Linked DNA regions of Homo sapiens: all the other regions are linked to region 1. The links come from fine-mapping of genetic effects on gene expression. A gene starts in region 1. Each other region holds a variant in brackets. All regions are shown on one strand. Distances are between the middles of the regions. Region 1 holds the start of SEC31B (SEC31 homolog B, COPII component). Region 2 has its middle 31 kb from the start of LINC02681. Region 3 overlaps WNT8B (Wnt family member 8B). Region 4 overlaps WNT8B (Wnt family member 8B).

Region 1 (8,139 bases):
CCACCCTATCTTTCTATGATCTGAGAGCTTTCTCTGATGTTCAATAAATAATTCTAGATACTAAGTTTCCCCTCAACTTATGTACTCCCAGTGGATCCTAATTCACAGTGTCACCATACCTGTGGCCAGATACAAAGGGTATTGGCTGGCTGGGCTCCATGCCTGGACAGCTGGCCGCTCAAGTTCCTTCAGCTTCATGGTCTATCCTGTAGGTGGCAGAAAACTGACATGGCCCTCAGCCCACTGAAAATAGAAACCAGCAAACTTAACAGCCAGATCCAGGGAGCATCTGCGGACAAGAGTTCTTGTTTGTCTTTCTCCATCACAAGATAGGGCATTTCAGGGCAACACAGAGTGACAAATACATGACCATCTGCAGATCTAAAGATAGTTCATTCACCCAATTACTGAAATGTAATGCTTTAAACCTCAAATGATACTCAACCACAATGGCTACCACAGGTCCAGTGGTGATAACCATCAAACCAGACAATCTCTCAGTGATGTTTGTCCATTTCCTTGGCTTTAAATAGCACCCATATGCTGATGATCCCCAAATTTATATCACCATCACAAATCTCTCCTCTAAGCTCCAAGTTCTTATATGCAATTTCTTTTCGTTTTTTAGACCAAGTCTTGCTCTGTCACCCAGGCTGGAGTGCAGTGACACGATCTCAGCTCACTGCAACCCCTGCCTCCTGGGTTCAAGTGATTCTCCTGCCTCAGCCTCCCGAGTGGCTGGGATAACAGGCATGTGCCACCATGCCTGGCTAATTTTTGTATTTTTAGTAGAGACGTAGTTTTACCGTGTTGGCCAGGCTGGTCTCGAACTCCTGACCTCAAGTGATCAGCTGCTTATACGCAATTTCCAATCAAATATTTCACTTGGATATAGTAGATACTTAATGGGGGAGGGAACTCCCATTTTAGTCTGTCTAAAATGGAGTTCTCTATTCTACCATCTTTTATGGTCTTTTTTTATTTGTTTTTTTCAGAAAGGAGCAAAGTCACAATCTCTTCTGTTCTTCCTCCAGTTTTTTTCATCTTGGTAAATGGTTCCACTATCCACCCAATTGCTCAACCCAGAAGCCTGAAAATCCCTCTTGATCCCTCCTTCTCCCTCATTCTCTTCTAATCCATCATTTAGTCTCCTTGATTTAACCTCCAAAATATATCTCAATCTGTCTACTTTTCTCTATTTTCGCTGCCAACAGCCTTTTTGATTGTATCATCTCTCACCTGGAGTACTCCAACAACCTCCCAACTAGCTATCCCCTTTCTACTCAAGCCATTACCCAATTCGTTCTTTACACAGCAGCAGGAGTGAACTTCTAAAATAAAAAATGATTTTGGCATTCCATGCTTAAAATCTTTCAATGATTTCTATCACACACAGAATAAAATTCAAACTTCTTTGAGCCCTGCCCAAAGGCTCCAGCCTACCACTTCAACTTCATCTTTTAATACTTTTCTCATTCATTGTGCTTCAGCCACACTAGCCTTTAATTTCCTGACATTTTCCTTCCTTAGAGCCTTTACAAATGCTGTTCCCTATACTTTGAATGCTCTTCCCTTCACTTTCGACATGACTGGCTCCTTATATCTTTCTGGGCTCAGCTTACTTCCCCAAATAAGTGAACTACCCAATCACAAAAAGCCTCAGTTTTTTTCTTCCTAGTAATTTATAATTACATATTTATTTATATTGACATTGTCAGTCTCTTCCACTAATATGCAAGCTCCATGAGAGCTGACACTGTGTCGGCTTTTGTTCACCATGTTGTAACTAGTTTCCAAACGAATGTCTGGCATATGGTAAAAGCTCGAATGTGGACATCCATTTTAACTCTGTGGTTTCTGATCTAATTCCAATGTATATTCAAGGTCCCATCCCAACAGGCTAGCAAACAGGTAGAAATGATTTTTAAAAATTACACTGAACTTGAGGAGAAAGCTTGGGACCTACTGTGACCTGCTTGAGTAAGCTATAGTCAGATCAGTCTCACCTACAAAAACAGGAGATAGTATTACTTAATCTCTAAGGTACTTTCTAGCGTGAAGAAAGTTTAAGCCTGCCCATTAAGCCAAGATTTCCAAAGCACCTTTAAACACTTGTGGCTACTATCACGTATTCTGTGACCAGCTCAACACTCTACTATACAGTCACCAGTGCCACCTGCTGGTCACAGCCATTTTAATGTTTCTGGGAAAAGATTCCCTAACAACAAAAATAGGAGCTGCGATAAGCAGCTGTGCATTTGATGTGCATATCTCAGTTAATTCTCTCAGTGGTCTTATCAGGTAAGTACTATGATTATCCCCATTTTCTAGAGATGACAACTGGCTAGGCCGGGATGTGAACCCCCATCAGCATCAAGAGCCCGTATTTCTAACCACTGTACTAGTCGCAAGTAAACCCTAGAAAGTGTTTTAATCGCTGACAGTCTAGGAACTGGGAAAATGGGCTCTTAATTCACATTGTTAAGAGGCATCTATTCACAAAAAAAGGGCCCCCGCTGGGGTCAGATTGGCCATGGGGGCGTGAGGGGGAGATGACCAATGAAATGCTCGACAGACCTGCCGTGCAGGAGGGCACCAGCTACCCTTGGCAGTCCAGTCCCTAGGGAGGACGGTCAGCACAGCCTCTTTCCCGCTGTCGCCGAAGCGCGGCGCGCCAGGGTCAGCAATGACAGACCTTCCCGCCCAGCCCAAACGCAGCGACACCGGACGGCCTCGGCTGGGCCAGGTCAGGACCAAGGCGGATGGGAAGGCGCAAGGCAGCAGTGAACAGGGAGACCCTCATCCGGCTGGGGGTTCCCGTGCGGCAGGGACAGTAGAGCCGGATCCAATTCAAGGGTAGACGTAGTGGAGGCCCCCGAGGCCCGGACCCGCGGGCAGGGCAGGCGCGGGCCGGGGGCTCCGCAGCAAGCGGGCTCCCCTCCGCGCTCTGCCGAGAAAGGAGCAGTGCTCCGGGTCCCCAGCGCAATCTCTGCTACCAGGGACCCCAGACCGGCGGGGCGAACCAACCTGTGCGGAAGACCCCGGACAAGGGTCAGGCGCGGCGGCCGGAGCCGCTCCTCTGGCAGGGCTCTCGCGCGGAGCCGGGCGCTGTGGACGGCGGCTGCGGAGGACCAAAGCGGCGCGGACCCCGGCAGGGCACCGTCGGAAACACGCTCCGCGGGCGCCGAGCCCGAGACACTGACAGACCCACGGAGAACGTTTCCAAACAGGATTATAGCTTTTAACCGGGCCTCCCTCACCTACCCTGTGATTGCGCAGCGGGTCAGATCTGGACCAGTAAGTTCTGGTCTATTCAGTTTGAGCCAGGCTCTAGGGCCAGTCTCTGAAAAGGGAAAATACTAACTCATTATCTATGTATTGAAGCGGGAGAAGACCCGGCCCTGGCCCCAGGAGCCCTCAGTGGAATCCATTTAGTTGAAAACGTAAAAAGCAATCGAGGCTGTAAATGGCAGTGAGTGTTGCACTGCAGCCCAGCAGAAACTGGTGCCCAAAACTTGGTTGAATTAAGGGCTATAAGTGTATGGAGGGTGAGACTACAGGGCCAGGGGCTTCCTGAAATATTTGAGGAACATAGGAGGGGTGTTATCCTCTGGAGCTGCAAGAACACAGGTGATATTCCAGCCGATAATGTATTTTTTATGTTGAAGAAATTGTGCCACTTCCAAATAAAAATGTTCTGTAGACAGGTCGGGTGCAGTGGCTCACACCTGTAATCCCAGCACTTTGGGAGGCCAAGGTGGGCATATCACCAAAGGTCAGGAGTTCGAGACCAGCCTGGCCAACATGGTGAAACTCCGTCGCTACCAAAAATATAAAAATTAGCCGGGCATGGTGGTGCAGGCCTGTAGTCCCAGCTACTCACGAGGCTGAGGCATGAGAATAGCTTGAACCCGGGAGGTGGAGGTTGCAGTGAGCTGAGATCACGCCACTGCACTCCAGCCTGGGTGACAGAGACTCCATCTCAAAAAAAAAAAAAAAATTCTGTAGGCAGCTTTAAATCTTAGAAACTTATGCTTAACGCATGAATTCTCTGTATTCCTGCCTGATACACCTCCAAAGATGGGGGGCCAGTTATCATGATGGAGCCCAACTCATTGTGACACGACTCCAGTTCCCTTCCATGTGGATCTGGCAATTTTGAAGTTAGACAGAAGGTAATTCAGTGCATTATCTGTGCCTAGCCCACGCTTCCTACCTACTAAGTACTCAAGTATTTCCTGAACTTCTTAGCTGGCACAACAGGGAATGAAGCCTGAGGAAAAGTAAACAGGGTTAAAAACTAAACCTGAGAGAAGGAGGCAGAAGAGTTACTGATGGAATACTCCTAAAGAAATTTGAACCAGAAGCTTAAGTCACAGTTTCGGGTAGGACATGATTAAGCCAAATTAAAAGTGCACTTTCTCAACTCACACCTCTTAAGAATTCTTGCTGGGAGCAGTGGCTCATGCCTGTAATCCTAGCACTTTGGGAGGCTGAGGCGGGCAGATCACTCGAGGTCAGGAGTTCAAGACCAGCCTGACCAATATGGTGAAACTACATCTCTACCAAAAAATACCGAAAAAATTGGCTGGGCGTGGTGGCATGTGCCTGTAATCCCAGCTACTCGGGAGGCTGAGGCATGAGAATCACTTGAACCTGGGAGGCAGAGGTTGCAGTGAGCTGAGATCATGCCACTGCACTCCAGCCTGGGTGACAGAGTGAGACCATGTCTCAAAAAAAAAAAAAAAAAATTCTTTTTGGCCTGGCATAGTGGCCCACACCCATAATCCCAACACTTTGGGAGACCAAGGCAGGTGGATTGCTTGAGCCCACAAGTTTAAGACCAGCCTGGGCAACATGGTGAAACCCTGTCTCTACAAAAAATACAAAAATTAGCCAGGTGTGTTGGTGCATCCCTGTGGTCCCAGCTGCTTGGGAGGCTACAGTGAGAGGACCGCTTGGGCCTGGGAGGTAGAGGCTGCAGTGAGCTGTGATCACACCACTACACTGCAGCCTGGGCAACAGCGTGAGACCCTGTCTCAATAGTAATAATGATAAAGAATTATTTTCACTTTGTATTATAACTGCTGGTCTCCTATGTAATATTTGAAGGTGATTACTTTGTCTTGCTCAGTTTTATATCTCCAGGGCTTATCAGTGTTTGATACATATTAGACACACAGGTGTTTGTTAAGGAAATGATTATCAAATGCTATAGAGAATGAAGACAGATAAAAAGCCAGTGGGGACCTTCAAAGAATAGCATTCCACAAGTATCCACTCCCTGACCTCACAAAAGGTCTCTCACTGCCTGCACAACTAAGACTCCACATCTAATTTGAATGAACTTGCTTCTTTTGGTCACATAAAATGTATGCTTTTCTATGGGACAGGTTTTCCGGCAATATACTGTAACTTAAGAATATGTCCCCAAAGGAATATGGGTTGGTTCACTTAAAAATAGACATGAGGGCTGGGTACAGTGGCTCCTGCCTGTATTCCCAGTGCTTTAGGAAGCTGAGGCAGGATTGCTTGAGGCCAGGAGTTTGAGCCAGCCTGGGCAACATAGCAAGATCCCACCTCAACAAAAAATAAGAAACTTAGGTTCGTACATCCCAGTAATCCTAGCTACTAGGGAGGTTGAGTAAGGAGGATCCCTTGAGCCCAGGGGTTTGAGGCTACAGAGAGCTATGATTGTGCTACTGCACTTCCACCTGGGGAACAGAGGAAGATCCTATCTCTAAATAAAACAAAAAACAGATGAATGATAGACTCTCAAAAACATAGTTTTTCTCTAAGACTGTTATAGGAGTGTGGATGAGTCATCAAAAGTAATCAAAGCTATGAACATGTTCAGTAGTAACTCACTGACTGTCCTCCAATTCATAAATACAGGTAATGTCAACTTATTAAGAAGCTATGATTCAGAAGCTGCTTTGGAATAAGGAATATTCTTATAACGGAAATAAGATCAGAGGCAGTCGCAGCCTTAGGCAGACAGGACAAAAACACTTATCAGTCCTGTAATATACTTGAAACACGTTAGAGCACATTTTTTTCCAAGTAACCACTATTATTAAGGAGTTTTTTTTGTTTTTTTTTGTTTTGAGACGGTCTGGCTCTGTCGCCCAGGCTGGAGTGCAGTGCCACCATCTCACCGCAACCTTGACCTCCTGGGTTCAAGGGAGTCTCCTGCCTCAGCCTCTGGAGTAGCTGGGATTACAAGCATACACCACCAAGCTTGGCTAATATTTTGTATTCTTAATAGAGACGGGGTTTTGCTGTGTTAGTCAGGCTAGTCTTCAACTCCTGGCCTCAAGTGATTCACCCGCCTCGGCCTCCCAAAGTGCTGGGTTACAGGCTGAGCCACCACGCCATGCCAAGGTTTTTTTCGAGACAGGGTCTTGCTGTGTTGCCCAGGCTGGAGCAGTGTTGCAAACATGGCTCACTGCACGCTCCTGGGCTCAAATGATCCTCCCAGCTCAGCCTGCTGCACAGCTGGGACCACAGGCGCGCACTGCTGTGCCCAGTGAATTTTCTGAAATTTTTTTTTGCAGAGATGGGGTCTCGTCATGTTGCCCAGGCTAGTCTCAAAGTCCTGAGCTTCAAGCAATCCTTCCACCTCAGCCTCCCAAAGTGTTGGGATAATAGGCGTGAGCTACCAGACCCAGACTAGAAAGGTTTTTTATGTGAAATAAATCTTGTTCCAACTTGGAAAGTTAGGAACATTTCTTCCTTGACCCTGTAAATGGGAAAAGGAGGGACCCTTAACACCTCCACACAGCTAAAACCCTTAAGTACCTTTACAACCCAAGTGAAATTAACAAATTAACATTTTGTGCCTAAGTCCCCATCCACCCCACCCTCTTATCCTTTAAATTTCAGAAAAAGAAAACAGGGAAGACAGCAGACATCAAGCAGAAAAAAAGGGAAAAGGATGAGGTTCCTCAAGGCAGTGACTATTCCTGGGGAAATGAGGCACAAATAACACAGCACTGAGTTTTATTAGGGATTTCATTAAGGTTAAATTTCTAGGAATGAGGGAGTCCTAGTTAGAGGACCCAAAAGCCCACGAAGCCTCCTCAGATCTCATAGTGAACCACCCGCTCTGGTTCTTTGGAGGGATCACCGCCTCGTTCCAGGTACAGATTATTGTAAGGATACTGCTTTGGTCCCTACAGAAAAAAACACAGGTCAGCAAGAACATACATTCAGTCAATACCTGGCTACACCCCACTCTGAGTTAACAATCACGCATGGTAAATGGGTACACAGTAGCCTCTGGTCAGACCCAGCTGGGCTAGGAAGGCAGGAACAGCACTCCTCTTCCTCACTCAGCCCAAGGCAGAGAGAAAGCCTAAATTGTAAGAGAAGTGGTGCCTACACTGTGAGAGAGAAGGAGAAAGGGGGAGGGAAGGGGGTTAGGGAAAGGAGGGGAAGGGAGGAAGACAGGGAGGGAGGTAAAGAAAGAGAGAAGAGTGTGTTAGAGTCAGAGGCAACACTTTCTAAATGAGACGATGCATCCATCCATCCCACTCTCTCTCGGGGTCGAGACAGACTCAATCTCCTTTAAGTCACTCAGCCTCTAATGGTTCCACCACTAAAGTGGCCCAGCAAATGAGGCGTGCAGCAGCAGTGGTGGGGGAAAGCACAGAGGAGACAAGGCTGGGACGTGCTTTAGGGGCTGCTGGCTTTACCAACAAACAGCTGTCAGAGAACACAGCTCAAGGGGAGGAGAAAAGGGTGATGTGCTTACAGAACTGAAAAATGGAAGAGCCACACTGTTCCTTGCTCTCCTGAAGTGAAGTTAGTGCTCACCCTAGCCCTACGTGCATTCTCCAGCATGGAGCCCCTGGGGCTTGGTAGGAAGGCTCGTGTCAGTGCACACAGACATACCAGCTACCTTCAGGACATTGATTGTCTCTGCAGAGGTAGCACTGGGCAGCCAACTGCAAACACAGCAGCCTCCCTGCTTTCAGCTTCTCTCCTTCCAGTACATCCTGGAGACTACTCCTGGATTAATCTTCCTAAGAACTCAGCATTCATTATGTCACTTTTCTGTTCGAAAACCCAAAATGGCTCCCTGCCACCTAGAGGCAGACCAAGTCATCACTGTATCCCCAACCGCTAGCACAGTCT
Region 2 (8,139 bases), 770 kb after region 1:
ATTGATCTGCTTGGAGCCAAAGCTGACAGTGCCCCACTCCTGGTCTCCCCATGTTCCCATTCCCAGTGCCGCACCTCCAGGCAGTTTCTTCAGGTAATGCTCATGTGGGACTCTGTATCAGCGTTATCTGGGGGAGCTCTGACACCGGGCATGCTTCCAGGAAGCCCTGCCTCTACATACAAGCTTCTTACAATGCATGCGTGCGGGTAAACACGCTTATGTTAAAAATCTCCCTCAAGTAATTCTGCTATCCTGCCAGGTCGAGAACACTGAGCCGTCACCACCAGGCTCCCCTCTCCAGGGTGGCTAAACTTGCCATTGAGGGTGTTGGGCTGTATTTTATTTTCTCAGTTTGGGAAGGGATGAGGCCCCAGAACTGAAAAAAGGACAGTCAATGGCCAGGAACCGAATGAGTTAAAACCGGGCCCTATAGCCTTCATCCCTGGTGACTCTGGCTGGCCTCGTTAGCGCCCGCGCAGCACGCACAGAAGGACCCTTCGCGCAGGATGTCCCGGAGACTCGTCCACGCTCCCTAGCCGGGCTGCGAAGGCCCAGATCTCCCAGCGCCTCCATGCCGCGTCGGCCGCGGCCTTGGGGGTCTTCCGGGGACAGTGGCCAGCCCTGGGCCGGTGACCTAGCCTTTGGGCGCTTCCCCGGGGCTCTAGGGTCCCAGGGCGCCAGGGCCAACACCAGGAAAGCCAGAAGGTTCCTTCCTTTGGGGCAGGAGTTGGGGGGAGTCGCCGTACGCCCACCCTGCCACGCGGGAGGCCTCCGGGAGAGGGCAGAGGGCGCCGGGCAGGGACCAATCATCGGCGGCGACCGGTCACTCGCGCCCCAGCGAGGAGACCCTGAGATCCGCGGGGAGAGCACAGGGTCGCGCCGCCCCCTGGCGGCTCAATGACAGAGTTGAGGCCCGGCGGCTGGCGACTGCGGCGTCTGGCAGCTCCAGGAAAGGATCCCCCTTGTGAAGAAACGCCCCTACGAAGACTGTCCTGTCCTGTCCCTGCCCTCCCGCTCCCGCTCGCCTTCTCTCCCCTTCTTTATTTTCTCTCTTCCTCCTCCCCCCACCTCTTCCACTCTTCCTGCCCTTCCCCCCTCCCCGTCCTCACTCCCTCTCCCACCCCCATTCCTTTCTCTCGTCCTTCGCCCACCGCCTCCCGCCCCCGCGGGGCAGCGCCTCGGTGCACCCGCTTGGCAGTTAGCCCATTAGATCTCGTACTATTGATCCGCTTCTGAGCAAAAGCTGACAGCACCCCCTCCCGGGCTCCCCACGTTCCCATTCCCCGCGCCCCCCTCCAGGCAGTCCTGGCCTGCGCCTCCTCCCGCCCCCCACGCGGGCCGCGCCGAAGTCTCGCCCTCACGAAGGACGAGAACAAATGTAATTAAAGCGACCGGCGAGGGGGGTGTGCCCCCACCAACGCAGGCACGAGCGAGGGTCCCAGCGGCCGGCGCCCGGCCTGCCACCTCCCTCCCCCTCGTCCCCGCCCCCTGGAGCGGGAGCATTTGGGTTGAGCTGCGCCTGTCCTATAAATCCACATATAATTCTCCTCTTTCCTGTTCAGCTAAGGAAAATAAACGTGTAAGGCTGTTTCTGGGAGCCCAGCTCAGGGACCGCTCTAAATTCTCCTCTTATTGAGTAGGGGCTGGAAATCATTCAGCTCGGCGGCGCGCCCCAGAACCACCCCCTACCCCCGCTCCGGCCCGCGGCCGCGCCCGCGCCCGCCGCGCACACGCACGCGCGCACACGGAAGGCAGGCGCCGGGTATATAAATATCTCCAGCTCTCCCCATAGCCGGGCAGATTTATTCCGCTGCCAAGCCTGCAGAAAATTGACTTGTTCATGGAGGCGGCTATTGACACATCACCGGGGGGAGGGTTAGGGGAGAAAGCAGTGGAGCCGGCGCCCCTCCATTATACGTTAATGTAATCAGCAGTGTGCGAAATGACTGCGCGGAAAATAGCATCACTGACATTTATATTAGAGGATATTGATGGCAGGAGCTGTGACCGCATCACTCTGCCTCCCGTTTCCACGGATTGACACAGGAGCCTCTTGTTGGCTCCATCCACGCTCGCCTCCCCTCCCCCTACCTCTCCCGCCCTCTCTCTGTCTCCACCCACCCTGTGTCTCTCCAGCTCTCCCCCTCTCCGAGGAGGAGATCTCACCCCCACCCTCCCTATACACTCTTTGATCACTCATTTTCCAAATAATTCTTGAGCACCTACTGGGTGCCAGGCGCAAGGGTCTCTCCCTGTGCCTCCTCTCCCTAGGTTTCTCCCTCCCCCTCTCCCCCACCGTGCCCTTGCCCTCTTTGTCCCTCCTCCCCAGCTCTGCCTCTCCCCTCCCCCTGCCTTGGCTCGGTGGCTGGACCGCTGCTGTCACAGCAGATAGATAATTGAAAAATGGGCCTCACCTTTGCAGCCGGCAGGAGTGGTTCAGGCAGTTACCGCCGGGGTTACCTACTCCATCTCAGGCCCAGGCTCCAAAAGAGATTCTGAGGAAATTGGATTTTACATGGATGTTTTATTCGAGCAGAGGCTTTAGTGTATATAAATACAGGCGAGGAGGCCTTGGCGGCAAGGATGAGTGAGGACAGACAATCCCGCCTGGGGCCTCCAGGCTCAGGCGAGGCAGGCGGGCCATGTGCTCAGCTCCCGGTCCCAGACCTGGATATCAGCGCATTCCCCCTCATGATCTGGGACTGAAAGAGGTTAATGCTTCTGAACAGCTCCTCAAAAGCTGCCTTGGGAATAAAAGAGTGTAGTTGTTGAGAACTTGACAGGACAGTATACTGAGAAAAGAAGGAAATATACTGGAGAAGTTTGAGGACTGATTCTTTTTCTTTCTTTTTTTTCTTTTTCTTTTCTTTTCTTTTTTCTTTTTTATTTTTTGAGACAGAGTTTCGCTCTTGTTGTTCAGGCTGGAGTGCAATGGCATGGTGTCAGCTCACTGCAACCTCCGCCTCCCGGGTTCAAGTGATTCTCCTGCCTCAGCCTCCCGAGTAGCTGGGATTACAGGCATGTGCCACCACACTTGGTTAATTTTGTATTTTTAGTAGAGACGGGGTTTCTCCATGTTGATCAGGCTGGTCTGGAACGCCCAACCTCAGGTGATCCGCCCGCTTCAGCCTCCCAAAGTGCTGGGATTACAGGTATGAGTCACAGTGCCCGGCCGAGGACTGATTCTTTCAATAAATATCTATTGAACCTTTAACTTTTGAAGTATTGAGTTTGAGGCACAGGAGTGAGTAAGTTATGGCTGCTGCCTTCAAGAACAGTCTAATAGTTTGGAGAATGACACTGGGGGTTTC[C/CT]TTTTTTTTTTTTTTTTTTTTTTTTTTCAGAGATGAGGGTCTCACTATGTTGCCCAGGCTGGACTTGAACTCCTGGTCCCAAGCGATCTTCTTGTCTCAGCCTCCCATCTAGGGTTTCTGGTTATGGATAAGGAAAGGGAGAGTGAGAAAGCAGATGCTGAGATTGCTTTTCTAGGGCATGACCAGCTGGGGAGCTTGAATGAAGAGGCAGGAGGGAAAGTGGTCGGATTGGGGCGATAAAGGACCTAACTCTCCAGTCTGCTCTCTGAGCCTGGTTAGCAAAGCATCTAGGGAACTTGGACAATGGTGGACAATGAATCTATAGGCAAGATCACATCCAAAGTGTTTGCAAGGAATCCTGGTGAGATTCTCTGGAGGGCCAAGATGAAGGATCATTGAAGACCAAGGTGAGGCCCTCCAGAGAGACCAGGTAGAAGGTGGGAAGAGGACCTTTGCGGGAGGCCTAAATTGAAGGCACTTGGGCAAATGAGGGGCATCAGAAGACCAGGGAGATGGGATGTGGGTGTGGAGCGGGAGGAGGCAATGCCTGGGGACCTAGGATAAAGATTCTTTTGGCCGGGCATGGTGGCTTACGCCTGTAATCCCAGCACTTTGGGAGGCCGAGGAGAGTGGATCACCTGACATCAGGGGTTCGAGACGAGCCTGGCTTACATGGTGAAACCCCATTTCTACTAAAAATACAACAAATTAGCCAGGCATGGTGGTGCACACCTGTAATCCCAGCTACTCAGGAGGTTGAGGCAGGAGAATCGCTTGAACCTGGGAGGCAGAGGTTGCAGTGAGCTGAGATCGTGCCATTGCAGTCCAGCTTGGGCACAAGACGGAGCGAAACTCCATCTCAAAAGGAAAAAAAAAAAAAAAAGATTCTTCCAGGGCCTGAATGTCCCCTACCCCATAGGAAGGTCTACATTTCATTCCTGGGCAGGGTCTTTTCTGTGCCCTGTTTGATCTCTGATTAGAGTCTATGTGGCTGACAGGTGCAGCGCAAATCATTTCTGTTCCTTGGAAGGAGAGTCATGAGCCATCCCATGATTAAAGGACTGGAATGAAGATGAGCGGACCCAGGCTCAGACTGCTCACTGAAGGGATAGGGGCTTCTTCTGAGCTCACAGCACAGACAACAGCTGCCTTATCCCAGCCATATCGCTGAAAGCTGGACTGTTCCTCCCCCAGAGAAACATTACAAAACCCCCCTTGTCCTCTGCCACATTGTTATACTGTTACATCATCCGCTTTGGGGGCAGGACAGGTGCTGGATAGATGATGGCCATCCCTCCAGCTGCCCCACACACATCCCAGGCACTCCCAGATGGCACACTGGGAACTCCAGTCCAGCTGTAGGATGGGAGTATTCTGCGGTAACTGGACTCCCTCTCAGAACTCTCCCTGTCTGACTGCCATCAGCATCTTCCCTCTCACCTACAGATTTCATTCATCCTGACAGCCCAGTGGAAAGGGAGCCCCTTTCCACCCATCAGGGAGCCAGAACACTCCCACTTACCTTAGTTACCTGTGCCACCTCCTTCCCTTTGCCCTCAGTGAACCACAGGAACTCATGTCCTATCTGTCTCCCAGATCAACTCCTGTATTTGTCTTCCTTTCCTTGTGACTCATTTGAAACATGGATGCAGAGATTCTGGTCTTGCTCCTAGCTTAAGACCCTGCTGTGGTGTTTGTTTCCCTCCAAAATTCATGTTGAAACTGAATCCCCAACGCAATAGCATTAAGAGGTGGGGCCTTTAGGAGATGCTTAGGTCGTGCCCTCACAAACAATATTAGTGCCCTTATAAAAGGGCTTGAGGGAGTTGTTTGCCACTTTTCCCCCTTCTGCCGTGTGAGAATGCAGCAAGAGGTGCCACGTATGAAGCAGAGAGATATCCTTTACCCGACACCAAATCTCCTGGCCCCTTGATCTTGGACTTTCCACCTCCAGAACTGTGAAGAACAAATTCCTATTATTACTATTATTATTATTATTATTATAGAGTCTCACTCTGTAACCCAGGCTGGAGTGCGGCGGCGTAGTCTCAATTCACTGCACCCTCCACCTCCTGGCCTCAATCGATACTTCCACCTCAGCCTCCCAAGCAGCTGGGACTACAGGCACCTGCTACTACACCCAGCTAATTTTTTTGTATTTTTTGTAGAGATGGGGCTTCACCATGTTGCTCAGACTGGCCTCAAATTCCTGGGCTCAAGCAATCCTCCCACCTTGGCCTCCCAAAGTACTGGGATTACAAGCATGAGTCACCATGCCTGGCCTGAATTTCTATTATTTATAAATTACCCAGTGTCAGGTATTTTGTTATGGCTGCAGAAATAGATTAAGACAGACCCCTTGGCTGGGCACGGTGGCTCACACCTGTAATCCCAGCACTTTGGGAGGCCGAGATGGGCAGATCACGAGGTCAGGAGATCAAGACCATCCTGGCTAACACGGTGAAACCCCGTCTCTACTAAAAATATAAAAATTTAACGGGCAGGTGCCTGTAGTCCCAGCTACTCAGGAGGCTGAGGCAGGAGAATGGCGTGAACCTGGGAGGCGGAGCTTGCAGTAAGCCAAGATCGTGTCACTGCACTCCATCCTGGGCAACAGAGCAAGACTCTGACTCAAAAAAAAAAAAAAAAAAGACAGACCCCTTGAACAGGATGGCGATGAGAACATGAGTGCATGCATATACATGTGTGTGCATGCACATGTGCTCCCTTGAGCATTGCAAACCCAGGGAATAAGTGACACCATTCAAGGAACCGCACTCGGTCTCACCTTGCCATCCAATTTAGGAAATTGACATTCGTTAGAAAAATAAAGGAGCAGCCAGGGAAGTGGCTTCCCACAGCAGGAAGGATGCTCCTCAAGGCTTTATGAAGATGGGCTTCTGGGAAGTCATTCCTCCAGGAACATCTGCCCGATAAGCCATCAGAGAGGACTCAGGGAAATGGGGGGTTGAAGGTACTGGAAAACGGAGCCACATATAATTCAACCATTTCTTGAGATTTGGAATCTGTCCTTTCTCTCTCCCCATGTAGAGGCCAGGTAGATGTAGGGTGCAAAGGAGAATGAACCTTTGAAAGGTGGCTACTCTGCTTCTGGGGGGCCAAGGAAGCCAGCAGGAGCTGGGAAGTTAAGGTCTAGGTGGAGAAGCCAAGCTTGGCAGAGGAGTGTTTCCAACTTTAGCAACAAAGCCAATCTGAGCTGTGTAACTGAGGTGAAAGTCACTTCACCACTCTGGGCTTCAGGTTCCTCATCTGTAAAATGAGAAAAAATAAGATTTCTTTCCGTTCTAGTTTCTGTGATTCTAAACCGATGGGTGAGTGTGATTGGAGAGCCCAGGTTTAGGATGAAAGAAGGAATTTCAGGGCTGAAGATCCAGATTCTTACAAGAGGGATGAACAGAGGTAATTGCAGGGCCAGCGGGGCCTGACATTCATCAGAGGACTGTTGGTGGCTGGGAACCTGCCAGGGCCAGGACAAAACAGAGCATAAAATCAGCCCGACCCTGGGGCAGAGAGAAGGCAGGGATGGATCTAGAAAGCATGCTACCTAAATTGTTTCAAACTCAGACTCTTTGCTCAGAATCTGGCTCATACAGCCCAGAGATCATGGGTAGAAACTCCAAGTGGCCAGGCAGGTGTCCATCAGCCTAAGCAACATAAAATCTGTGCACTCTCACGTTCTGTGCTTTAGAAGGGAATGAGTGGGAGGTGAGGGTCTTTGCTTTGTTTCCCCAGAGTTTCCTAATACGGTTTCCTGCTTGAGAAATGTTAGCATCACCTTGGCTGGATGGAGAGGGGATCAGGGCGCCCCTAGTGGTGGAGGCTGGTGGTTGGCAGAAGCGGCACCTCCTTAAGACTTCACTAGAGGAGCACGGGATAAAGTGTGAAGCAGCTGGAGGGAGGCCGAGGGGCACAGAGCCTAATGGAGGCAATCCCTCCGCCCTGTTTTGACTCAGGGCAAGATGAAACAGGGCAGGTGGCCAGGGAGAGTTGGAGCAGAAAGCTGCCTTGGAGGATAAATGCCTAGAGGGAAAAGACTAGAAGCCCAGAGCACAGGCAGCCAGCAGGCAGCAGGCAGGGGAGGAGAGGTGAGAAGGGAGGGAAGATATCCCTTTCCACGGATGTGCCTTGGCCCCTGCCCAGGCAAAGAGGGGCAGATTTTCCGTCTTGTCCCAAGCCCCTGCATCTGCCACCTTGTTTACCTCCTGCCTATTTATAGTTGCAAATTCCAAGCCTGGCATGGGACTCTGCGATTTATATGACTATAAACCTTCAAAGGGCACTGAGGGCTGGCGGGGAATGGGTAAAGACAGGGGCAGGCCTCGCAAGGTCAAAATACTCAGTCTCCCACCCCCACTGTCCTGACATCCTACCTCCTCACAACAGGTTGAAAGGCCAGGCTCACGCAAATAAGAAAATGGGTAGGAAGCCACAGTCGCCGCTGACTCTTCCTACCCTAAGCTTGTCCAGTTTAGGATTTAGAGCAAGGCAGAGCATGTCCTGGGTCCTGGAACATGGTGGGGGAAAAGAAGAAAAACAATAGAGCAAAACAGAGAGAACCTGTTTTAGTCTCCCTGGCCCCTTTTGGGAGGGGGTAGGGAAGCTCAGTGTGGGAGAGTGGATCTCATCAAGGACAATTGAATTTGGAGAGAGTGGGTGAGTCCAGGCTTTCGAGGGAGAGGGGAAATTGGGATCAGCAGCCCAACTCCCACCTACCCCATCCACTTAACAGCAGAGGGGAAGAAGAATGAGACCTGGAGCACTCCTGGCCTCTGGCTTCCTTCTGGGGGTGCCTTTGGAGGCCTGAATG
Region 3 (8,139 bases), 34 kb before region 1:
CTTCTCAGACACGCAGGACCCAGGTAAAGTCAAAGCTTTGCCCTTTTGCCCACTGTCTGCTACCAGGGCTCACCCACTGCTGCACCTCTCTTCTGCACAGCTCCTCCCCTGCTACCTGCTGAGCCAGATTCCCCAGGAATCTTGAATGCTTTCTCTCCTCTTCTCCCTTTCCTTTCCCAGAAAAACTGAGGAAACTGGCCCCGGAAAAGCATGTCTTTGGGGTTGGTTCCTAGAGGCAGAGGTTGAAGATGGAAGAGGGAGCTCTGGAGTGCTAACTTGAACACCAAGGGTGCTACTCATCCCTATGGTATCATATCATGAATGGACTTTACTAGTGGGGCAATGACTTTCCTAGACAATAACCCGAGGGACTCCAGATACATACCCCGAAGGTCTAGGAAATACGTTAAGGGCAGATTACAGTCATTTCCTACCCTTTAAAGGTAACTTCTCCCTTCTCCTGACCTACTTCCTCCTAGCAACCAACTTTACCTCTTCTTCTCCAAAGGATCTTTGTTCCTCTGAGCCAAGACTGAGGTAAATAAAGCCACTTTCCTCTTCAGATCCTGGTCTGCACCTCTAGAGGCAGGTCCTAAGAAGGAGAAACTGAGACCCTTCCTTCTCACTAACCTGGTTCTCAAACAGGCAGGATTCAGAGCACTGGATATCTTCCTTCAATGAGTAAACTTCCTGCAATGAAACTGTTGCTTAGTAGGAAGTTCAGCACCTTGAACCTTAATTTATTGCAGTCATTGTGATATGTGCTCTTTTTCTAGGTACTGCACTTATTCTTGAGGATATTCGGGTGGGCTGTGGTAACAGATACAACCTGTAGGCTCTCTCCTCCCTCCCATCTTGGCAGGATACCATCCTCCCTAAAGCCTCACTTCCCTGGTGGCCCAAGCAGTTATCTGGATTGAGGCTAAGCTGCCAAGGATTAGTAAATCATCTATTTAAATCTTCTAATACATTCACTCAAGAGCCATGAGCTTGCTGCTTGTGGTACTTGAGTCTTCTGGTTTTATTCTCAGAGAGTACAGCAGGGACTTGTTTATGAAACAGAGCAAGACCTTGGGGAGGGAAGAACCAATCCCTGACAGACCCTCTGTAGCCCAAGGGGCTTCCCAGCCAGCTTCCTTGCCCTAGGACAGTCCCAGGTCTGGGGCTGGGCAGCTCTTCTAGAGCAGAACTGGTCAGATGCTAGACGACCTCAACCTTCCTCTCCCAGAGTAGGAAAAGCAGTGTGGCTGGCTCCAGGCAACAAAAGCCAAGACTCTAGGGGTTCACCTGTAAGAGTCAAGGGTTCCCGTATTCCAAACTAAGGCAATGGCCAGGTCAGATCCCAAACCCTTGGCCTCACCCACACACCTTCTGGTCTTACCAACACTTACTGAGGAGAGAGTTTCCCCTTCCTGACCGGGGATACACTTCCTTTCAGGTGTTCTTAGTGCTTCATTTCCAGCTTTCTCAGCAAAAGGCCCTTCACGCCTTCCCTCTGCTTTTATCTGAACCTCCTGAATCTCCCAACTCACCTTTTCTCCTTAATCAAGAAGCAGCATATACTAACCTACCTGTCCCACTTTGCAGAATTACTTTATAATGTACACGAAGAAAGTTTGGCAAGGCAGCTAGAAAATTTAAAAGCACAATGTTGTAAAGTAAAGCTACATTCTCCAGGTCTCTTAGCATAAAAGCAGAACTATTGTGCTTCATATTTGGTAACTCCAGGTCAGCACTCTAAATACGTCATGCCGCCAGAACATTATTTCATAGGTTATTGTTTTATACCCCCAAATGGATACCAGATTCATTCCAGTTCTACCAAGAAAACATGACTGAGATGCCTTGGATCTGTATTGCTTTTCCCTTCCTTTTGCAATATCCACTTGTTCATTTGTTCATTCAACAAACACCAGAGTAGAGATAGTGGTGAACAACCACCATTGCTGCATCACGGAGTTTAAGTTCTCATCTTACACTCAATTGCCAGGGCCGTGGTCCCTTTACAAAGTAGACAACTCCAGAACTGGTGCTTGGGAAGACATCTTTGAGGTCAGCCAGTCAAACCTTTTGTGTTACAGATTTAAACTGATGCTGAGAAAGATGACTGGCTTCTTCCCCCAACTAGTAAGTTACTGTGGGGAGAGTGCAGAGCACAGGCCCCTTCCACCTCTTGTGTGCTCTTCAGGAGCCCATCTGTCTCAGCCAGAAGACAGAAACAGAGGGAGGCCCTGAGAAGTGACAAGGACATTGGTTGGGGTGGGCAAAACACTGTCTCCTTCCTGTCCCTGGCCTGTGAGCCTAAACACAGGCAGAGCTTTTTCTTTTTGAAAAGAATCGCAGCCTCAACTGGCCTTAGCAGCAGGTTAGGGCAAAGACAGAGACGGGGTCGTCTTCGGCGCTGGTGGTGCTGGCGGTGGTGGGAGGGGAGGGCAGGCCAGGGCACTCGCCTATTGTAGGTCTGGATTGGATGCTTCCACTCATTCATTTCCTTTTAATTAACCCGCATTCCTGGAGGAGAAATATTTATGTTGGCTCCCATAGAGGCAATCCTCAGACTGGAAAGAAGGGGGAAGAAAGCCTGTCTTAGCAAAACAATATCTCTAAAGAGCTCAAGAAGAGAAAATAGGAGAACAAAATGCCATTAAAATAGCCTTCTACCCCCACTGGAGTCAATGAAAACTTCATTTCACATGCTAATCCGCCACTCCGCCCCCTTGTCTTCTCACAACACCTTTTCCGAAAGTGTTTGGGAAAAGTCTTCGCAGTCAGTACACAGCTCCCTGCAGCTCAGACTTCTCCTTGTGTTAGTTCAGGGCCCCAAGTGGGGCTCTCGCTCCAGCAGCGGCTTTTTTCTCCCCCACTTTAATTTAAACAAAGACTTCGGAGTTCATCAACCTCCCACTGAAATTCACAGCTGCTGAACAAACTAATCCCCTCTCCCGGCCTTTCTTCCCTTCAATGGGCTCTTGGCTTCAAAGACACTTTGGGAAAGGACTTTGCTAGGGCTCACACTGCTTCATCAATAGAAGTTAGTGCAAGTATTATCTGAAGAGCAAGTGGCTTTACAAACAAATACTGCCTAACAATCCCTCCCTCCCAAACACACACACATCTAGCCCGCAGACATGATGGGATCTACAACAGGATTAGGGCTAGCATCCCCTGGCTTCACACCCAGTCCCTTTGTATAGCTGAGCTCAGCCCTGAAGTGGGGTAGGGAAAACCCTGGAACTGAACACCAGGCACGGATGAAGGGAGACAATCCCCCCACCCTCAACACACCCAGCAGAGTGACCACAAATGCTGCAAGGAGAGAACCTAATTCAGTGGGAATGGACACCTTCCTTTAACTTTCTTGATTTATCTCTCCCTAAGCCTCTCCCCTGCCTTACTAGGGTGCAGGAAGCAAGAATAAAGAGGACTAGAAAGGTAATGGCAAAATAGAACCCAGAGGAGGCAATGACTGGGAGATGACAGAGGAAACCAAATCGAAGCAGCTTTATTGCACCATTAAGTACATCACTGCATCAAAGACAGTGCCACAAATGCAAATCCAATCGGAGAAGGTAGCCCTGAGACATGTGGTGGCTGCGAGGGAGAAGGACCCCCAACCCTTGAGGAGCAGCGCTGGAAGAGAATCATTCCTTAATATGGCTCCAATTCCAGAACTGGGCTTTATCATCACAGAAGGAATGGCCTTGGGCTAAGGCTCCAACATAGGTGGAGTCAAGGGCAGTTCCCCATAGGCTGTGGTTCCCCTGCTCCTGTCTCACAGCCTAAGACAGCTTCCAGCAAAAGGCAGTTCATCCCTTTCACCTTCCATCCAACCTAGCCCACCCTTAATAATGCCGGCAGATGAGAAATTCCATTTTAACAGCGCCAAAGTTTCCTCTCTTGGTTCTGCTCAGCACCCATCCCTCACGTCCATGAGTTGTTCAAAGGGTGAACAGCAGTCAGCTCTACCCCAGACCCTGGGCTACAGAGAAATACGGACCTGGAAATACCAAGTCAGAGGCAGGGAAAAGGTAAGGGCAGGCTCATAAACCACAGAAGGGAGAAACAAAAGACCCACATGATGGGTCACAGCAGAGGTAGGCTTAAAAGTAACAATCCTGTTCACCCTCTCAGAAGCCACTTAAATAGAAGATCCCTGGGGGAGAAGATATCCTGCCCCAGGTCCTTACAGAGTGTAGTATTAGGGAGAGTGAAGAACTGATTCTATGCCCTGCCTCCAGGCCTGAGAGTGTCTTGGACAGATCCTAGAAGGCCAGACATAAAGGAGTAAAAAGCAGGCACTCAGCTGGTTTGGAGCCAAGCCTACAGCATCACATACCTGGCAGCAAGGAAAAGAGTCGGGAAAAAGAAACAGAATCTGTTGCAGAAGTCCCCTCTTCTGCAGGGAGGAGTTATGTAACAGCAGAAGTGGCCTCCTAGCAAGAGAGGCTGCCTGGTTTAGACCAGCAGCTTATGAGCGATGATGAGGACAG[C/A]CTTCAGGATAGGCATGAAGCTGGACACCTCGCTGAAGCTGCTACAGCCCGCCACCTGGGCATGCACTGCAAGGCCCTGCTCAAAGCTTCCTGCATCCACACATCGGGCAACCTCATGGAGCCCAGCCACGACATGAGGTGAGAGCTGTGGAGGGAATGACCCTTAGGTTAGTGAGCCCAACCCAGCTCCTACCCTGGCAGCATGGAAGGGATAAGGGAAGACTTAAGTTCTGGGGCCCAGTCCAGGCAAGATGCACGTATTTTGTGGGGAACCCAGGTCAGTGACACCTATGGGAAGAAAAGACACTGGGCTTCCTTTGGCCATGGTGATGGTGGAAGTGTAGGAGGCAGTGGGAGCACAGCTAGCTGTACTTACTGTCCCCTCACAGAGCTTCTCATATAGATACTCCAGACGCTGGGCTGCCTCTTCCAGCTTCCTTTTTGTCTTCTGCAGGGAAAGAAATGGATTCCAACCCCAGCCCCTAAGTCTAACACCACACAGGGCCATAAAGAATCACAGCATATTAGGCCGGGCATGGTGGCTCACGCCTGTAATCCCAGCACCTTGGGAGGCCAAGGCGGGTGGATCATGAGGTCAGGAGATGGAGACCATCCTGGCTGACACGGTGAAACCCCGTCTCCATTAAAAATACAAAAAATTAGCCGGGTATGGAGGTGGGCACCTGTAGTCCCAGCTACTCGGGAGGCTGAGGCGGGAGAATGGCTTGAACCCGGGAGGCAGAGCTTGCAGTGAGCCGAGATCGCGCCACTGCACTCCAGCCTGGGCGACAAAGCGAGACTCCATCTCAAAAAAAAAAAAAAAAAAAAATCACAGCATATTAGAGCTAGAATGGCTTCATTTCACAGAGGAGGGAATGAAGGCCCAAGAAGGGTAAGTGACTTGCTCAAGCCGACACAGCCAGCAGGGGAATGGCAGACTTCCTCACTCCTGGCTCCACCCTCCTTCCAGTACCCCTGCTGCCTTTAGGTCTCAATGCTGCTGGGTCCTACCACCAAGGAGCTGGACTTCAGACCAGACTCAAAAGTCTCTCCCCAGCTCCACATGGACGTCAATTAAGTACAAGATAGAGACAGCATGTCCAGGGGCAGTGAGAAGAGAGTCACACAAGGAACTGGTCCACAGCTGAGGGGTCCTGGAGCCAGCGAGGGGTGCGAGGAGGGCACTGTGAAGAAGGTTCAGACTTACTAAGTCAGTTGCAGACAGGGAGCAGCGTTGGAGAAGCGCCTCAAAGCTGCTCTTCAAGGACTGATGCTCTGGGGGCAGCTCCTTCCTTTCCATCTTCTCAGGTGGCAGGTGCTGAAGCTGCTGATAAAGAAGCAGGGAGAAAGGCCAGAGGGGCAAGCTGTCCTTCTCATGGCTTCCCTAAGGACTAGTCCCCAGTGACTCACAGTCACACTGTTCCCATTACAGCAGAGTTGGGGAGATGAGCAGCCTCCCTTTCTCTGCAGTAAGGACACCTGGTACCTGCCCCCAGTCTCCCTCAGCACATGCCTTGAGGAATGAGGCCCATCTACCATGACCTGCACCCAAGGAGGGCTGGAAGGTTTCCCAAGGGAGGGGAATACATTGTCCTTGTCACCTGCAGGCTGAGTTCTCCTGGAACTCCTGGGGGAGCATGACTCACACTGGAGACAGGGGGCTGTGAGGGAAGAATCCCTTGTAGCTCAGGGGTGAGGCTCATAACTGGAGCAGTAATTGGTGCTGGGGGCATAAATGTCTCTGGCAGCTAAAGAGACAGAAGGAAAGACATGAGTCTAACCTGAGAGACTCCATGGCTCTGGTTTTGGGGAGTGGCAGGAATGACAGTGAACAAGGAGACAGAAGAGTGAGTGTGGGAAACTGGGAAGTGAGGAGACTGGTGTATGTGTGTAAGAGGGAAAGAGAAAGAAGAGGGTTCTGAGGAAAGAAGAGTAAGTGGGAGGAGGGCGGGGACAGTCTGAGAAGGGGAAGGACTGACTGAATCCTCCAAGGAATTAGAACGTGGTCATTGGTGAATGTGCGAGGGAGTGGGTAGGGAAAGATGCATTGACCTTGTTCCTCTGGAGGTTTCCCCTGGGGGCTGGGGCTTCTTTCCAGGAATCTTGAGGTCCTATAGAATAAAAAGATAGAGGTTTTTCGGCGCATAGTGAAAAACACTGGAAGTTTTTTATCTGAAGGCTGGAAGCATTCTTTGAGTTGGAGTTCACCATACCTCCCTCTGCAGACCATCTACACTCCCAGCCACCCTCCACCCAACAGGGCCCTAGCCCTCTGACTTGAGGAAAGACTCCCAAAGTAGTGAGAGGAGCAGGGGAGGCAATAACCCAGAAGAGGGATCCATGGAAGGAAGACTGACCTGGGTGAGGAGTCAAGATGCCAGTGGTTGGGAGGACACTAGAGCATGGGGCACCTGGGTCCCCTGGAAGGTATGGCACAGGGAAGCTTGCAGGAGGGGCTGGGGTGTGGGAGACCATGCGGCCGGGACCTAGTGGTCTCAGAGGAAGCAGAGGGAACAGTCTAGGAGTCTCAGGCAGGGAGGTAGAGCCAGGTCGCATGATGCCTGGGCATGCCATGGGTAGAGGGGAACCAGGAAGAGGCCATGTCCCAGGGAATCCCACCGGGTTAGGAACTTGCACCCTTTGCCCTCCTAATAGCTGTGGCTGAGATGAAGCTGAAGCAGAACAGAAATAGGTCATTTGTCACTAAACTTCATTTCAGGAGCAACTCAGAGCATATCAGGGAGAAACAGGATTGCAATAAAAAAATAATAAATGATTAATACATGTATATGGAAATCTATAATTTACAAAATACTTTTAACTATATTCCTTATTTGACCTTCAAAACAATCCCATAGCATTGAAATAAGCAACACAACACTTTGGTATATTGCCAAAGGTACGAAGCCAGTGATAGCATTAGGAATTCAGACTTCAACTTCCAAGCTCCTCTCACTAGACAGACATACAGCTTCCCAAATCCATGCTGGCCATGCCAATTGCTTTCCTGAGACCTCTGTGCTCTGCCCAGATAGATCTTCAGTGACTCACTCACCAGGCCTTACCCCAGGGCTCAAAGGCAAAGGCTGGATGGCCTGGGGCCCAGGTGCCCTGTAGTCACTTATATTCTGTGTCCTGGGACCCTGATAAGGGCTAGGATGGGAAGGTGCCAAGGGCATCGCTGGTGATGACTGAGGGGTGAAAACCCTTGGCCTTGGAGATGGAGTTGGGACCTATGAAGAGAAAAAAACATCAGCTCTTGGAAAGGAAAGAGAAAGGTAAATAATAGAAAACAGAAAAATAATAGGGAAAATTAATGAAACAAAAACTAGTTCTTTGAGGAAAAAAATCAATAAAATTGATAAACATCTAAAAACTGATAAAGATAAAAAGCAAGAAGATATAAATCATCATCAGAGATGAAACAGGGACTATTACAACAGACCCTGAAGCCATTAAAAATATAAACGAATACTACAGAAAACTTTACATTCATAAATCTGACAACTTATCAGAAATGGACCCATTCCTCAAGAACCATAAACTACCAAAACTCAGTCACAATGAAAGAAGATCTGGATAGTCCTATAACCATTAAAGAAATTGAGTTTGTAATTTAAAAGCTCCCAAAAAAGAAATCTCCAGGCCT
Region 4 (8,000 bases), 48 kb before region 1:
TAATATAAGGACTACTGCTAAGATTGTCACATCTGTTTAACTTTAAAAAATTTTTTTTGTCAATTGGCTTACAAGACTTGTTTTCTCTTTTCATATTTTAGGGCACTGCATCATTATATAAAAAATTCACATTTATAAAAAACATTTTTAGAATGATTTACAGGGCTGAACTCCCTTTGAAGAAAGAAATGGACTTTAATTTGGTGAAATAGTTATGGGAATATGACCAAAAGCTACACATTCCTGAATTTTTCTTTCTATACTCATCTTGAAAAATACCTTCCTCTGGCCCCAATCTCTACTGCAATCATTTCTCCTTTCTCTTTTTTCTTTCAATGCCATCCTCCCCCAACCAGTTAGCACTAGCTACTTTCATGTCATAACTCCTCACTCTCTGCAATCTGGCTTGTGTTCTATTGCCATACTTAAATAGATCCCTCCACTGATACCAGCTTTGTTCCCTCTTGACATATTTTTAAGTAGGAGGAAATCTGATTTTGAAAGTCTGAATACTTCTCTTCCCTTTAAGACTTCAGATACCTTGTAACTTCTACCTCCTAATCCCTTCCCCTAGTTAAATAGGAAAGCCTGATTTCAATACTTTGGAATAGGTAAGAATTAGTCATGCTTTTCACCCTTGAAAAATATTTGCATTTTAAACTTAACTCTCTCAAATTGTACAGTGAATAGTTCCAAGTTCAATCCCCTCAGGTATTATCAGATAAGGTAGTGAAGAAAATTTGGGGACCAACGGGATATTATTTCACAGTTATTAGTAAGACCTACTTTCTGTGTAACTGTGTGTGTGGGCACACGTGTGAACATACCTTTGTGTCTGCTCGTGCACATGTGTTCTACAGGTCAGATGTGTGGATGCTGTGGAACAGAGACAGTCACAAGGAAACTCACTCAGAAGAGCTATCTTTGGGCTCTCCCCAGCCCAAGGCATCTTGGGAGTTCTATGGACTGAAAAGCTGCTGTCAGAACTCATTCTATGAGAAAGCTGCATCACTGGAGAACCTTCCAGCTATAGCCCCTGGCAGTTTCCCTACTCCATACCCTCCCCTTAGCCTTTAGCCCTTTGTCCTATATGCCTTCTGTGCTAAATCTTCAGATGGAGATCTATAGTTCACATTCATTCACTACCACTTCTCCTTTCCCCTGGGCCAGCACTCCAATTTCGGTAATCAGATGTCTCTCTCCTAAAGTAGACCAAACTGAGCCTCATGACTCAGAGACAATTTTTTTAAGGCAGGATCTCACTCTGTCAGCCAGGCTGGAGTGTACAATCTTGGCTCACTGCAGCCTCGACCTCCCTAGCTCAAATGATCTTCCCACTTCAGCCTCCTGAGTAGCTGGGACTATAGTGTATGCCACCATACCTGGCTAAGTTTTGTATTTTTTGTAGAGACAGGGTCTCATTGCCTTTTTAAAATATCATCATTATATCCTCTTTTCTGAGCTCCATCCCATTTATCCATCTTTATTATGATTTTTATTTTTATTTTTCGTAGAGACAGAGTCTCACTCTGTTGCCCAGGCTGGTTTCAAACTCCTGGGCTCAAGCAATCGGCCCACTTTGGCCTCCTAAAATGCTGAGATAACAGGCATGAGCCACCATGCCCAGCTGATGACTCAGAGACATTTTATGGACATTAAGAGATGGGATTAAAGGTTGGGGAGAAGCCAGAAATACTACGTAAAGATTTGTGGGGAAAGTGATGAGAGGCAGAACAAAACAAAATCACAGGGCACTAAGATGAAAGTCCTGGGTGGTAAGAGGAAAATATCAAATTCTGCAGATTCATATTCAGAATGTTTCTTATTTTCTATTTTATTTTGTTTTATTTTATTTTTTGAGACAGAGTCTCACTCTGTCGCCTAGGCTGGAGCGCAGTGGCGCAATCTCGGCTGACTGCAACCTCCGCCTCCCAGGTTCAAGCGGATTCTCCTGCCTCAGCCTCCCAAGTAGCTGGGACTACAAGTCCACACCACCACGCCCAGCTAATTTTTGTATTTTTAGTAGAGATGGGGTTTCACCGTGTTAGCCAGGATGGTCTCAAACTCCCAACCTCAGGTGATCTGCCTGCCTCAGCCTCCCAAAGTGCTGGGATTACAGGCGTGAGCCACCATGCCAGGCCTATGTTTTGTTTAGATACACAAATGCTTACCATCATGTTATAATTGCCCACAGTAGTCAGTACAATAACATGCTGTATAGGCTGGTAGCCTAGGAGCAATAGGCTCTACCATATAGCATGGGTGTATAGGAGGCTATCCATCTAGGTTTGTATAAGTACATTCTATGATGTTTGCACAGTGACAAAATCACCTAACGACACATTTCTCAAAACATATCCCTGTCATGAAGCCACACACTGTATCCCCTCCCCACCTCTGCCTACAGTGTCCTTTAGCATTTGTTTCTCCCTACTCTTTTATACATAGAACCCAGTGTGAGCAGCAACAGTGCCTAGAAAATGTGCCCAGGGGATGTCGTGCTACCCAGATAAAGCAGGGCCTGTGCCCTGGCAGATGTGGTTGTTTTGTGGACATAGAAGCAGTAGGCTGGTGTAATGAAAGGATAAAAAAGTAGCAGAGACAATGTGATAATTAACTGAGTGTATTCATGAGTGTGTGCAAAACATGGCTTAGGCCGCTCAGAAATATTTACCAAGAATTTTTCAGGAATTAGGAGTCCTGGATTAGCCAGTGGGAATAAGAGCAAGGGAAAAACGGGCTGCAGAAAAGCACAGCAGGTAGAGTGCATGCTCTAGAGTAGGACTGCCTAGGCTCCAGCCCTGGCTTCACCACTTACCTAGCTGTGTGAGGCTGGGTGGCCACTCTATGTTTCAGTCTCTGTTTCTGTAAAATGAAAGATATAATAGTTTCTACCTCATATAATTGTGATCATTATATGAACTTAAAATATGTAAAACACTTCAAAGTACATGGTCAGTCCTGGCAACACAACGAGACCCTGTCTCTACAAAAAATACAAAATAAAAATATGCCGGGCGCGGTGGCTCATCCCTGTCGTCCCAGCACTTTGGGAGGCTGACATGGGCAGATCACTTGAGGTCAGGAGTTCAAGACCAGCCTGGCCAACATTATGAAACCCCATCTCTACTAAAAATACAAAAATTAGCCAGCATGGTGGCATGTGCCTGTAGTCCCAGCTACTCGGGAGGCTGAGGTGGGAAGATTTCTTTTTCTTTTTTTTTTTTGAGATGGAGTCTTGCTCTGTCGCCCAGGCTGGAGGGCAGTGGCGCGATCTTGGCTCACTGCAAGCTCCGCCTCCTGGGTTCACGCCATTCTCCTGCCTCAGCCTCCCAAGTAGCTGGGACTACAGGCACCCGCCACCACACCCAGCTAATTTTTTGTATTTTTAGTAGCGACGGGGTTTCACCGTGGTCTCGATCTCCTGACCTCATGATCCGCCCGCCTCAGCCTCCCAAAGTGCTGGGATTACAGGCATGAGCCACCACACCTGGCCGGAAGATTTCTTGAGTCTGGACAACAGAGCAAGTCCCTCTCTCTAAATAAATAAATAAAAGTACTTCGTGTGCACAGAATAAACACTCAGTGAAAAGTATAGTACCCACCCCATGGAGTTGCTACGGAAATTTAAAAAGATGATACAGGTAAAGCACTTAGAAGAGTTCCTCACATACTTGAATAAATGCTAGTTATTATTACATGATATGATTAAACTTTATATCAGTGTATACACACACACACGTATACTGGACAGCTAACACAAGAAGAAGAAACAATTGTAAAATTTTGACTTGGCAGTGTAAAAGCACAACTAACCACAGTTATTTATGTAAATCGCTTACCACTTATGCCTAATTACTATGAAGCACAATAACAATTATGCACAGCACTAAGTGTGTCAGATTAACTTTGCTAAAGGTTTGATTATAGCACTAACCTCTGTGTACATATGCTCAGTGTTCACTCTGTTACTCTTGTAGTTGATCATCTCCTAATGTGGCACAGTCATCTGCTCACTACACTAAAAAATTAGTGGGAGCACTGGCTTGCCACAGGCTTCCTATATTTCTCAAAATCTTTTTGCAGTTCTTTTTCTCCTTACATTTTCTGCTGCATCTGATGGTCTATCTTTTTTATTTCAAAATCCTTGTATTCAATTCACTTTTATAGGCACTTACTATGTTCAAAGTACTAGATTAGGAACTGGAGGGTATACAGAG[A/G]TAATTAAGGCAGCCCATACTTAAGTATAAAAGAGGAAAGGGAAACCTTCATATGAAACAGAGAAAAGTTGCTGTGAGGCTTCAAGGTGTGCTGGTTGTGGCTTCTGCACTGGTACTTATTCAAGAATAAGTGAGATTTTTAAATAATAGCTTTATTGAAATATAATCTACATACTATAAAAGGCACCCTTTAACAAATCAATGATTTTTTTTAGCCAATTCATGGATTTGTGCAACCTTCACCACAATCCATTTTAGAACATTTTAATCACTTCAAAAAGAAACCCTTTATTTATTAGCATTCACTCCCCGTTCCTCCTCCCCTCAGTCCCTGGAAACTGTGAATCTAGTCAGTTTCCATGAGATTGCCTATGCTGGACATTTGATATAGATAGAATCATATCATTTATGGCCTTTTGTGTCTGGCTTCTTTCACTCAGGATGATATTTTCAAGGGTCATCCATGTTGTAGCTTGTATCCAGTACTTCATTCCTTTATATGGTCAAAAAATATTCTATTATGGGTTGGACATGGTGGCTCATGCCTGTAATCTTGCACTTTGGGAGGCTGAGGCAGGCGGATTGCTTGAGGTCAGGAGTTTGAGACCAGCCTGGCCAACGTGGCCAAACCCCATCTCTACTAAAAATACAAACATTAGCTGGACATGGTAGTGCATGCCTGTAATCGCAGCTTCTTGGGAGGCTGAGGCACAAGAATTGCTTGAACCCAGGAGGTGGAGGTTGTAATGAGCCAAGATGGCGCCACTGCACTCTAGCCTGTGCAACAGAGCAAGATTCTGTCTTAAAAAACAAAAAAAAAGGTGACTCTTCATGATTTTTGTCTGAGCAACTAGGAGGAACAGTCCTTTACTTAGATGGAGAAGACTACAGAAGGGGTAGGCTTGGGTGATGGCAGCGAGGATCAGGAGTTCAGTTTTGGACACGTTAAGTTTGAGATGCGTATTAAACACTGAAGGAGAGATGCCAAGAATACAGTTGGATATGCAAGTCTAGAGTTCAAGCAAATGTCTGAGAAGAGCTGGGAGGGTTCAGGAAGTCATGAACCCTTTGAATGGTCCTGAATCTGGGTAATATTGTCAGCAACTGTACAACCTCATGGGAAATGGGAAGCTTGTACCTCCATCTGGGAGTATACTGTTTTACCATGTTCTGTCTATATAGCAGCCTCCATTTGTTAAACAAAATTTATATCTTAAATTTACATCTTCAGTGTTTGTTAGCATCTTTCCTTCAATCACATAACTGCCACATAGAGGTGGCACCCATACAAACACTTAAATTCCTTCCTTTTTGGTTCTCTTTGCATCTTCTCACAATACTCACTATGTTTTCTGCAATCTATATTTTACCCCCAAAAGGAAATCATGTCATTGTTTCATTGACCAAGAACAAGATCCTCCTCCTTTGGTACTCACTACAGGACAGTCTTCTTTTTTTTTTGAGACAGAGTCTCGCTCTGTCGCCCAGGCTGGAGTGCAGTGGCACGATCTTGGCTCACTGTAAACTCCACCTCCAGGGTTCAAGTGATTCTCCTGCCTCAGCCTCCTGAGTAGCTGGGATTACAGGGGTGCATCACCACGCCCAGCTAATTTTTGTATTTTTAGTAGAGACGGGGTTTCACCATTTTGGTCAGGCTGGTCTCAAACTCCTGACCTCAAGATCTGCCTGCCTTGGCCTCCCAAAGTGCTGGGATTACAGGCGTGAGCCACTGCACCCAGCTGAGTCTTTTCTTAATATAGGATATTTTGGATATGAACAAGCTAGCCATAAGGTTCAAATATGTCTGCAAATAACTCGGAGGTTAACAACACAAGTTGGCTGGGCGTGGTGGCTCACGCCTGTAATCCCAGCACTTTGGGATGTCAAGGTGGGCGGATCACCTGAGATTGGGAGTTCGAGACCAGCCTGGCCAACATGGTGAAACCCCATCTCTACAAAAATTACAAAATTAGCTGGGTGTGGTGGCACACGCCTGTAATCCCAGCTACTCAGGAGGCTGAGACAGGAGAATTGCTTGAACTCGGGAGGCGGAGGCTGCAGTGAGCCGAGATCATGCCACTGCACTCCAATCTGGGCAAGACAGAGCAAGACTCCGTCTCAAAAAACAAACAAACAGAAAAACACAAGTCCCGGGAGGTGGAGTCTGCAGTGAGCCGACATCACACCACTGTACTCAAGCCTGAGCAAGATACAGTGAGACTCTGTCTCCAAAAACAAAACAAAACAAACAACAAAAAAAACAAAAACACAAGTCACTTTATAGGAATGTTGTCCAAATAAGGCCTATAGTGTTGTTCCATGACAGGTGCTCAATTAAGTCTCATTCATTGATCAGTTGGGCTTGACCTGGATATCATACAAATCTTTGCATATTGTAGGATCTTCCAGGAAAGAATTCTCTAGAATCTCTGTCTATTACTCCCTGTAGTTCCGGCTTAGACTCCTTTCACAGGAAGACTCTTCACCCCAGCTATGGCAAAGCATTTTCTTTGTCACTCAATTTGCTTTGTTGTTTTGTTTTCTTTCCTGATAATTTCTGTCTTATGGAAAATGGGAACTAGCTCTGTCAGGCTTGGTAATGTCCAAAATCTTTGAATGTTATTCCTAACATAAAAAGTGCCTTTCTGAGTGGGAACAAGCTCAGGCCCCTTTCCCCAAAGCAAAGGGGCCTGGCTGACTCCTCTGACATGTCTTTAAGGATCAGAAATTCATGTCCAAACCTATAATGGCTTTGGAAATTGTGAATTCATTTAAGTCATTCTGAATTGTATTTTTGTGTTTTGCTGGTGCTACTACACCTGATCAAGCAGTGCTTCTTTTCAGTTGAATTAAGGTTGCCTACCAAGCTTTAAAAAGTAGGCCTTGGTGGCTGGGCGCGGTGGCTCACGCCTGTAATCCCAGCACTTTGGGAGGCCGAGGAGGGCAGATCACGAGGTCAGGAGATCGAGACCATCCTGGCAAACACAGTGAAACCCCATCTCTACTAAAAATACAAAAAAAAAAAAATCAAAAAAAAATTAGCTGGGCATGGTGGCAGGTGCCTGTAGTCCCAGCTACTCGGGAGGCTGAGGCAGGAGAATGGTGTGAACCTGGGAGGCAGAGGTTGCAGTAAGCCGAGATGGCACCACTCTAGCTTGGGTGACAGAGTGAGACTCCGTCTAAAAAAAAAAATAGGCCTTAGTTTTGATAGACTTCATAGTATTTTTGATTTTCTAAAATTCTATTACAACTCGTTTAGAATCTTTTTCATCTCATATGGCAGCCTCTTAGTTTGTTAATACTGGTTTTCAAAAACTACTCACATTTTTGGTGTTGTATGTGTTTTTTATGAAGAAAGTCAGCCAAGCTCTTTTGGCCTGACAAGAAACTTTCTTGGTCTATTTCATTTCCAATCCCCTTTCTGGTGATGTTCAGCATCTTATTGGCCTTCAGAATTGCAGGGGTACACCAGCATGGAACAATACATAATGATTCCCGTATTACTTTCTCACATTATAATGGAAAAACAAAGATAATAGATAATAGATTCTGATTTTCAAATGCCTATACTGAAGTCATTCTCCAAGTCTTTAGCCCTGCAGATCATGTGTATATGTACATATATATTTAACTTTTTATTTTTAGATAATTATGGAGTTGCAAGACATGTACAGGGAAGAAACGTACAGGGAAGTCCCATGTACACTTGCCCCAACCTCCCCCAGTGTGAACATCTTACAACGTTAGTACGATATCCATGAAGCTTATTCAGACTTCACC

The links. PIP is the estimated chance that this variant, and not a neighbour inherited with it, causes the effect.
Region 2: its variant is fine-mapped to the expression of SEC31B in Th17 cells (Schmiedel 2018, PIP 0.95).
Region 3: its variant is fine-mapped to the expression of SEC31B in whole blood (TOPMed, PIP above 0.99).
Region 4: its variant is fine-mapped to the expression of SEC31B in whole blood (INTERVAL, PIP above 0.99).

Annotation. Positions count from the first base shown.
Region 1 is chr10:100,516,755-100,524,893 of GRCh38, forward strand. It overlaps SEC31B (SEC31 homolog B, COPII component), which reads right to left and starts at 3,107. Exons shown (of 26, transcript NM_015490.4): 1 at 3,028-3,107; 2 at 120-243. The coding sequence starts at 198. NDUFB8 (NADH:ubiquinone oxidoreductase subunit B8) reads right to left here. Exons shown (of 5, transcript NM_005004.4): 5 at 6,986-7,175. The coding sequence ends at 7,083.
Region 2 is chr10:101,290,910-101,299,048 of GRCh38, forward strand. No RefSeq gene overlaps it. Among named protein-coding and RNA genes, the nearest start is that of LINC02681, 31 kb to the left of the region's middle. RefSeq lists enhancers at 11-550, 551-1,090, 7,259-7,328, 7,369-7,438. The variant C/CT (reference allele first, on the strand shown) is at 3,312.
Region 3 is chr10:100,483,161-100,491,299 of GRCh38, forward strand. It overlaps WNT8B (Wnt family member 8B), which reads left to right. Exons shown (of 6, transcript NM_003393.4): 6 at 1-584. It overlaps SEC31B (SEC31 homolog B, COPII component), which reads right to left. Exons shown (of 26, transcript NM_015490.4): 20 at 7,546-7,723; 21 at 6,848-7,162; 22 at 6,543-6,601; 23 at 6,092-6,238; 24 at 5,698-5,814; 25 at 4,867-4,938; 26 at 3,487-4,635. The coding sequence ends at 4,456. Among named protein-coding and RNA genes, the nearest start is that of WNT8B, 24 kb to the left of the region's middle. RefSeq lists enhancers at 1,800-2,576, 1,925-3,417, 2,577-3,352. The variant C/A (reference allele first, on the strand shown) is at 4,491.
Region 4 is chr10:100,468,902-100,476,901 of GRCh38, forward strand. All of the region lies in intron 1 of WNT8B (Wnt family member 8B), which reads left to right. Among named protein-coding and RNA genes, the nearest start is that of WNT8B, 9.9 kb to the left of the region's middle. The variant A/G (reference allele first, on the strand shown) is at 4,221.